Linked DNA regions of Homo sapiens. The protein of the gene in region 1 purifies or fractionates together with the protein of each later gene. This does not show direct contact. Each region holds a gene or a part of one and is shown in the gene's direction. Other genes may lie near its edges.

What was found. The genes of interacting proteins can lie anywhere in the genome.
Region 2: the proteins of BBX (region 1) and SINHCAF purify together in Homo sapiens (co-immunoprecipitation; one large-scale study listed by IntAct). This does not show direct contact.

What each region holds. Positions count from the first base shown.
Region 1 is NC_000003.12:107,770,300-107,775,190, forward strand, and holds part of BBX (HMG box transcription factor BBX), read left to right. Parts: intron 1-2,328; coding exon 2,329-3,337; intron 3,338-4,419; coding exon 4,420-4,558; intron 4,559-4,891. UniProt on the Homo sapiens protein: Transcription factor that is necessary for cell cycle progression from G1 to S phase.
Region 2 is NC_000012.12:31,287,362-31,292,252, reverse strand, and holds part of SINHCAF (SIN3-HDAC complex-associated factor), read left to right. Parts: intron 1-4,468; coding exon 4,469-4,619; intron 4,620-4,891. UniProt on the Homo sapiens protein: Subunit of the Sin3 deacetylase complex (Sin3/HDAC), this subunit is important for the repression of genes encoding components of the TGF-beta signaling pathway.

The sequences.
Region 1 (4,891 bases):
TAAGGTAAATGTTCCTGAAGTGACCTATTAAAAGCCACCAGAGTGACAGTGGCTGAAAAATCATAAAATTTACCTTGAGAATGCCTTTCTAGCCTTTTTTCCAGAACTAGTATAATTTCTCTCCCCCCACATGGGATAGTTATTCACGAAGGGCTATAGAAGTTGAGAAAGGAAAATAAAAATTATTTCAAAATTGATATAAAAATAGTACATTCTCCCATAAGAGTAAAACATGCAGGGAATATTAAAGGTTTCAGTGATTCAGAATTAAGATAACATTTTGCTTTGAGCTTATTTCTGGTTATGTTTAATAAAGAGAAGTTCATAGTCTTCATAGCCACTTGCTGAGGTCTAAAGGTTAGCTTACCTGAATTCCTGAAAAAGACAGCTCTGTTGTGAATCCTTAATATTTCATGTCTTCCCTGTGAATGATCCGAAGGGCTGTGTGCTCTTGTCATGTTCACTTTTTTTAATTGCAGTGTCTGCCTCTCTCCACCCTTTCTTTAATTTCTTCCCAGACTTACTAATCATAACATAATTCTCACAGGAAGATTGGTGATGCATTGAAAATACTAAGAGAAAAATGAGGTAAAAAAGCATCTGGTATTTAATTCAATGTATTATCCACCTAAAAATGAATTTTACAGATGGTAATGATCTCTGACAACTTGCCATTTAATAAAATGATGGTTTTTAAAAACAGATCAGTTTCCTACTCATGTGCTTGATTTTGCATTGACTCAGCAACCCCCAATACTCTTTCCCTTCTAAGTTGCTAATACAAAGTAGATAAAATAAATTATGACTAAGACTTCCTTGCTGCCCTTGACCAAATCGGCATCATCAATCTCTTTATAAGTTCCTCAAAGGCAGACAGACCTGACCTTATTGATTTTTGTATCATTAGTGTCCTCCATGGGGGCTGGCATTTTGGGAGCCTTGCAGTTAAGTGTGTATAAATGAAAACCCAGGCACTGAAAACAGGTTTTACAATAAGCTTAAATTTCCCATTTTAAAAAATAGCTCTATATTAAAGTTTCAAGGTATCTGGGAGCCAGAGAGGAAAATGGCAACTTTCCCCTTGAATGTTCTGTACGTGAAATTTGGGGAGTTTTGATGAGAAATATAAAAACTTAACCAAATTGGGGCCAGATGGGTTTTGGTGTTCAGAATCTTTCAGATTTTAGGAAAATTATACAGTAGATACATATTACACTAAGTAACTTCCCCAGTGCATATTTGAATGCACCACTATTCCAATAACAAAAAGTATGAATGGTCACAGTAAGTGAAATAAACTATTTAAGACTATAAAGTTTCAGGTTGGTTCAGGTCAGAATTTGCAGCCAGCTGAGTTCACATCAGATCAATTTGCCAGCAAGTGAGTTAAGAAAACAAAAACAAGTTTGTTCTCAGAGCATTTATGACTTTAGAGTTGTCTATCAGCATTTGTGGACCTATAATGTTTTGTTCATTAATCAAAACCTTCTGTAATTGTTTAGCAAATGGTTATATCATTTCTAATTTCAAGTGGACAGGTAGAAATTATTTCTGCTTTCCTCATTTCCCCTGGAAAAAAAGAAAAGGCAGATATCTGAACAGAGTTTGAGGATGATTAAATACAGGTTGAGCATTCCTAATCTGAAAATCCAAACTCCAAAATACTGCCAAATCCAAAACTTTTTGTGTACCAACAAGAAGCTCAAAGGAAATGCTCATTGGAGCATTTCGGATTTCTGATTTTTGGTTTAAGAATTCTCAACCAGTAAGTATATAACGCAAACATTCCAAAATAAAAAAAAAAATCCAAAATTTGAAACACTTTCGTTTTCAAGCATTTCGGATAAGGGATATTCAGCCTGTGCTACAGTTAAGTACATCGTTTCACTTAGACCACACAGAATCCTCTGAGATAGGTCCTAGGATCGTTTTCCTTTTACAGAAGCCACAGAGGAGTGAGGGGGTAAGTGATTCATTCTGGGTCACAAAGTTAATAAGTAGCAAAACTAAGAATCAGACTTGGGTCTTTCAACTCTGAATCCCTTCCTCCTTCTTCCAGGTCTTGTTTTCATAGGAAAAGCTTCTGTTGAAGCTAGAAAATGACAATTCAGAGATACGTTTGACGAGTTAAATGACTGTATAACAGTGCCCACAGCCTTCTATCAATTTGATTCATTTCAGTTAGTTTGGCAGAAGTGGGCTGATTGTTGTAAAGTTTAAAGTGTGTTTTGATTATTTTTAAAACAGATATAATTGAAAACTTTAATTTTGAAGGTGGAATAATAAGGATACTTTCGGGTGCTCTCCCATTTTGTTTTAATTGTTTAGATGTGCCTGGCATCAGAAGGGATGAAAATGGAAGAATCAAAGCTAATAAAAGCAAAAGAATCCGATGGTGGAAGAATTAAAGAATTAGAGAAGGGAAAGGAAGAAAAAGAAATTAAAATGGAGAAAACAGATGAAACTAGGTTACAGAAGGAAGCAGAATTTGAAAAATCGGCTAAGGAAAATTTAAGAGATTCTAAGGAATTGAGAAATTTTGAGGCATTGCAAATAGATGACATAATGGCTATAAAAATGGAAGATCCCAAAGAAATTAGAAAGGAAGAGTTAGAAGAAGATCACAAATGTAGTCATTTTCCTGATTTTTCTTATTCTGCCAGTAGCAAGATAATAATTAGTGATGTTCCCAGTAGAAAGGATCATATGTGCCATCCTCATGGAATTATGATCATTGAGGATCCCGCAGCATTAAACAAGCCAGAAAAGCTAAAAAAGAAAAAGAAGAAAAGCAAAATGGATCGACATGGAAATGATAAATCCACACCCAAGAAGACTTGCAAAAAGAGGCAGTCTTCGGAATCTGACATTGAGAGCGTCATATATACCATTGAAGCCGTCGCAAAAGGAGACTGGGGCATAGAGAAACTTGGAGATACCCCTCGCAAGAAGGTCCGCACATCCTCAAGTGGCAAGGGAAGCATTTTGGATGCCAAGCCACCAAAGAAAAAAGTGAAATCAAGAGAGAAGAAAATGTCAAAGGAGAAATCCTCAGACACCACCAAAGAGTCAAGACCTCCAGATTTCATTAGTATTTCTGCTAGCAAGAACATTTCTGGTGAGACACCAGAGGGTATAAAAGCAGAACCATTGACCCCTATGGAAGATGCACTACCACCCAGCCTATCAGGACAGGCCAAGCCTGAGGACAGTGACTGTCACAGAAAAATAGAAACTTGTGGTTCCAGGAAATCCGAGAGGTCTTGCAAAGGTGCTCTTTATAAAACCCTGGTGTCTGAGGGCATGCTCACCTCTCTGCGAGCTAATGTTGACAGAGGTAAGTAACTTCTACAAACCTGAAAAGAATTCAAAAACCAAACAGAATTTCACCTTTAGACCTATTGAAAACAACTGCCATAAAAAACAATATGGTATCAAAATAATACCTTACATTTGTATATTTCTTTATGGTTTATAGATCATAATTATTTGTTACTTTACTTACATGTTTTCTAGCACCATTAAGGGAAGTGTATTCATTTTGTAGGTAGTTCTCAGGATGTAATTAAAGTAATTTTAATCTCTTCTTTCCCCCCACTGGTATGGGCTGGCTGTTTGTTTTGAAAGATTATTATTAAATATTCAGAGCTTTAGGTTTGGTTTTGAAAACTGGTGGAATTTCGAGAATCAAGCACGTATGTTTGTCAGAATCTTCACCTGTAGGCTCTAGAAGCAACTGCCTTTCTCTCTTCATTAGGTAATCAAAGCTGTAACTGAAGTGGGCCAGGCACAGTGGCTTACACCTGTAGTCCCAGCGCTTTGGGAGGCCAAGGCGGGTGCATCATTTGAACCGAAGAGCTCTTTAAAACATTATAATGTCCAGAAAATAGTTAACCTGTTTACCTTTATTCCATTGAGTGTTTTATATAAATTCTCTATTTTAAAATATAGCATCTGCCTGGAGGACTACCTTTTGCCAAGCTATATTCCAACAAGACATGTGTGAGTCCTAGGTCTAACAAGCCCCAAATGAAGATACTTGGGCCTATTTCATCCCCAGGGATGTCAGTTCAGTGAGTTTTAGGGAAATTAGACTGAATAGTGCCCACCAGCAAAGGACTCCCATACCTTGGCTGGTTTTTGAATGGAAAAGCTAGCAGCAGTTAGTCTGTCTCTTTGAGTCATGTGATACCTGTTGAATTACATGACAATTAATCCCAGAAGCTCTAAGTCACTTTTCTGCATGTTCCATTATTAAAGATGGTCCAGCATGAATCACTCTGAGAACTCTGAAATAGCTACAGTTAGCTTCATGCAAATGATATGCAAGCAGTCAAGAGGTTGCTCGTGAAGCAACTAACATCATCTCCCCTCGCCCACCTGTATACCAAACACATCCTTTCTCTTGAATTTTCTTAGGAAAACGAAGCTCAGGAAAAGGAAACTCCTCTGATCATGAAGGGTGTTGGAATGAAGAAAGCTGGACATTTAGTCAGAGTGGGACCAGTGGGAGCAAGAAGTTCAAGAAGACAAAGCCAAAAGAAGACTGTCTCCTTGGGTAAGTGCCTGTGAGCACAGTCACCTGTACTCCACAAGCCTCAAGTGTGGGTGGGATTTTCAAGGTAAACAGATCACTAACTACGCATGCTTGTTCTTTGACTACTCGCTCAGGACTTCCTACAATCTTAGTAGGCACCCTAGTGAACACAAATCAAGTGCATCACATCATTCCTGCTGTTAACATGGTCATGTGAATGACAGTAACATTCACATTTTGATCATAGTGAAAATATATAGACTTTAGACTTGGACCTGAGTTTGAATCAACATCCCTTCACCAGGATGCATTTTTCCATCCGAAGCTTAGAATGGATAGTATTAGCATGTTTAC
Region 2 (4,891 bases), on another chromosome or scaffold:
CTGGGATTACAAGTGTGAACCATCACACCCAGTCCTCACTAGATGTTTTAATGAACATTTGGGAAACATTAATTTTCTTTTATCACTTGAAGGCCGAGGAACTGATTATTCATATGTATATTCTTAGCCCTTTCCCTTAATTATAGAGAAAGTGATATCTCACTTTTGTCTTACTTAAGGGAATATTCAGTGTAATTTTAGATTTTTATTATGAAACTGTGCTGTGTAGTAGTTAGAGACTGAAAATAAATTCCTTTGATAATAAGGTGTGTAGATTGTGGAGGCTCAGACTGAAACAGGGTGTTCACCAGGTACAGTATAAATTGCTGGCACCTTTGTGCATTGAAGCAGTTGGGAAACATGTGAATTTTTATATATCACCCACTAAATGGTCTGTGCTTCTGGTTATGTGTTTGCTTCTGTGTATCCTGCACATACCAGGCCTGTATTCTCTTCTTTCTTTCTTTTTTTTTTTTTCTGAGATGGAGTCAAACTTGCTCTGTCAACCAGGCTGGAGTGCAGTGCAGTGGCACGGATCTCAGCTCACTGCAACCTCCCCCTACTGGGTTCAAGCGATTCTCCTGCCTCAGCCTCCCGAGTAGCTGGGATTACAGGTGCATGCCACCACACCCAGCTAATTTTTGTATTTTTAGTAGAGACAGAGTTTCGCCATGTTGGCCAGGCTGGTCTTGAACTCCTGACCTCAGGTGATCTGCCCTCCTTGGCCTCCCAAAGTCCTGGGATTTCAGGCGTGAGCCACCGTGCCCAGCCCTGTATTCCCTTTTCAAGACATTTTGTGGTGTACTGAAAAGGCATTGGACCTAGAGTTACAGATCTGGATTTGAATATCAGCTCTTGTCACTAGCAAATGTGTAACTCTGGAGTCACTTGACGTTTAACCATAATTTTCTAATCAGAGAACTGGGGATAATCAAGTAAAAAATGGCTTTGTAAAACAAAATAAATTCGTCTATAAATGTTAGCTATTCTTTTTGTGTCATCCTTTTCAAAATCTGCAGTGATTTCTGCTTACTATAAAATATGGTTGAGAATTCCTAGAAAGTGTTTGAAGGTCCTATTTTTGTTTGAGCTGAGTCAGTTCCTGGAGTGTTTTTGGCTTCCACAGCTTTGCTCATTGACTTTGCCCATTGTCCCTACCGACTTGATGCCATCTAATCACTCCTTGGTGCCTTCTAAATCCTACGTAATTTTTAAGACTTAAAATTGCAGTTTGGGCTGGGCATGGAGGCTTACACCTCTAATCCCAGCACTTTGGGAGGCCGAGGCAGGTGGATCACCTGAGGTTGGGAGTTTGAGACCAGCCTGACCAACATGGAGAAACCCCGTGTCTACTAAAAATACAATATTAGCTGGGCGTGGTGGTGCATGCCTGTAATCCCAGCTACTTGGGAGGCAGAGGCAAGAAAATTGCTTGAACCTGGGAGGCAGAGGTTGTGGTGAGCCGAGATTGTGCTATTGCACTCCAGCCTGGGCAACAAGAGCAAAACTCCGTCTCCGAAAACAAAAACAAAACAAAACAAAAATGGTCAGATAATTGAAATTTCAAATAGTTTAAAGATATTAAGCACTTCCTAGGAGAGTGAGTTTTCCTCAGCAGCATAGAGGTGTCTGTTGATGTTAATTATTTAGGAAGTCTTAAACATCCCACTAGACTCATTTTTTTAAAACCTGCTACTCTTGAGGATTTTGTTTGCTAAGTTAACATATTAAAAATACTAACGGGGCTTTCTTTTAGATACCTAATTTTATGCTGTTTTATGTAAATATTTGTAAATATAAAATATTTGTGAGCTCTATTCAGAAAACGTTTTCTTGACTGGGTGTGGTGGCTCACACCTGTAATCCCAGCACTTTGGGAGGCCAGGAGTTCAAGACCAGCCTGGCAAACATGGCGAAATCCTGTCTACTAAAAATATAAAAAAATTAGTTGGGTGTGGTAGTGCACACCTGTAGTTGTAGCTACTCGAGAGGCTGAGGCATGAAAATCCAAGAGGTTGGAGGCTGCAGTGAGCTGAGATCCAGCCACTGCACTCCAGCCTGGGCGACAGAGTGAGACTCTGTTTTAAACAAACAAACAAACAAACAAACAAAAACAAAAACATTTTCTTGGCTAGGTGTGACCATGCCTGTAATTGCAGCACTTTGGGAGGCCGAGGTGGGAGGATCGCTTGAGGCTAGGAGCTCCAGACCAGTCTGGGCAAATAACGAGACCTTGTCTCTGCTAAAAATTAAAAAAATAACCAGCCGAGTGTGGTGGTGTGTGCCTGTGGTCCCAGCTACTCAGGAGACTGAGACGGGAGGATTGCTTGAGCTCAGGAGGTTGAGACTGCAGTGAGCTGTGGTCATGCCACTGCACTTCAGCCTGGGTGACAGAGTGAGATCCGGTCTCAAGGAAAACCAAAAGATAAAAATAATTAAAAAAAAAAAAAAACCCAAATTTTCTTTAGTCTGTTTCTTTCCATGCAGCATGTAACATAGGATTTGATGCCTTATAAATATTTAATAAGTACTTGATTGGTTATCTGAATGGAAGGATTGCTCTGTCAACGTGTCCTGGGATGGGCAAGGTGTATGGTAGGCCCCACCTGTGTTTATGAGGTTTATGATACTGCTCTTGCTGTGACGTGGCAGTACAACAGCCTTATAGCACAATGACTGTTAACTAAGAAACTTATTTTCTGGCTTGTACATTTATCTGACATCTTCACATAAACAGGCAAAGTATTAAATCAGGGTTAGCTCTGCATCTAATGAACTGCCTTTATTCCTTATTAAATCAGGATCTTTTGTTTTCTCTTTATAGGTATAATGTCATTATTCTTTGGCTGCTTTCAAGATTTTTCTCTTGGTTTAGTTTATAGAGGCTTAATTATGACGTGTTTTGGCATGGATTTCTTTGGGTTTATTCTGTTGGGCTTTGGTTAGCTTCTTGAGTCTTAGGTTTATGTCTCGCCAAATTTCACAAGTTTTCAGCCACTATATTTGAGTACTTTTTCACCTCTATTCTCTTTTTCCTCTCCCTCCAGGACTGCAATGACATGAATGTAGATGTATGTTTGACTAAGCTCCACAGGTTTCTCCTGCTCTGTTCATTTGTTTTCTGTGTCGTTCATATGGGGCAATTTCTGTTGTTCTTTCTTCCAGTTCACTGTTTGTTTTCTCTCTCCCCTCCATGTTGCTCAGCCCATCCACTGTGGTTTTTATTTTCTTTATTGTATTTTTTTCAGTTACAAATTTTCCATTTATTTTTTCCTTATAGTTTTCTATCTTATTTTTACTGAGGCTTCCTATTTCTTTGCCAAGCCTATGTTTTCATTTATTTCAAACATGTTCATAATTGCTCACTGAAGCATTTTTGTCGTGGCTGCTTTAAAATCTTGGTCAGATAATTCTAATGTCTTTGTCATCTTAGTGTTGGCCTTTTCATTTAGTTTGAGATCTTCCTGATTCTTGGACTGATGTAATTTTTTATTGAAACCTGGACATTTTCAGATTATGTTGTGAGACTCTGGGTCTTATTTAACCCTTCTATTTTAACTGGCTTTTTTGACACCCCTCAGGGCAGGGAAAGAGGGAGGGGCCTCACCACCCTATTACTTACCGCCAGGTGTTAGAATTCCAGTTTCTCTCTCAACCTCCATTGACATCTGAGGTTGGGGGGAGGGGGAGGCTCCTTGTTACTACTGGATGTCAGGAGAGAGTTCAGGCTACCACCTGGTGAGGGTGGCCTTGTACTTAGTGGGCCATAATGAAAATCCTGACTTCGCTAGGCTTCCTCTGACACCACCCTGGTATAGGTGTTGGGGTGCTTCCTAAGTCTTGTGAGGGTGGAAATGTAGGCTCTTCACCTCAGCCTCTGCTGGGGTTAGGAAAGGTGTCCACAGTTTTTTCCGTGGGTTTGGCTGGAACAGGAAGGTTAGTGTTCAGAAATGTTTTCTGTCTGGCTAGGCTGCCCTTTTCCTAGTTCTTTGCTAGAGAGATCAGGTTTTAATTGGGGTTTTGGATTTTTGTTTTGTTGTTGTTGTTTTGATTGTCTGTACACATTGGCATTTCTGGGTGGCTGCTGTTTCACTTCCAAAGCTGGGGATTATGAGGCAAAAGGAAAATCCAGAAAAACTAAGGAACCTACCACCATGGCTTGCCTTGGGTCTTGAGCTCCCTAGATGATCATCACCTTTTGGAGTCTCAGGTTTGTTTTATATATAATATCCAGGGATTTTAGTTGTATAAGCAGGAGGAATAGGAAGTATGTCTATTCCATCTTCTTCACTTCTTTAAAAAACACGTTAGTCTGAATATCTTCAAATATCAGTAGTGCATAGAAAATGAATTATTTTTTACTTTTTCTTTTTTACCAACTCTTTCACAGTGTCTTATGCTGAGGTTTAGTTGCAATTACATGTAATGAAATTGAAAATTTTATTTTTTCTCTTAATCTTTATTGCAGATTCTGATGCTCACAGTACCACCTCAAGTGCCTCCCCAGCTCAATCTCCTTGTTACAGTAACCAGTCAGATGACGGCTCAGATACAGAGATGGCTTCTGGTTCTAACAGAACACCAGTTTTTTCCTTTTTAGATCTCACTTACTGGAAAAGGTAAAAGAAACAAAGTATCTCTCTAACCAGCAAACCATCTTAATTATGGGCAGTATTTTTCTACTTCCTTAGCAATTAAATGGCATTTGGCAAACAGTTGGTAACACACGATTGCAGTGGATTAAGCAGGAATTGAGCAGGGAAGTGGGATTTTTGTATGTTCTTCCTATTAAAATTTATTTAAAATAAAAATCACATCAAGGTACCTACATTGCCTATTGCTAGATAAGTGGAGTAGAAAGACAATATGCAGTGGAGAGAATCAGTAAAAC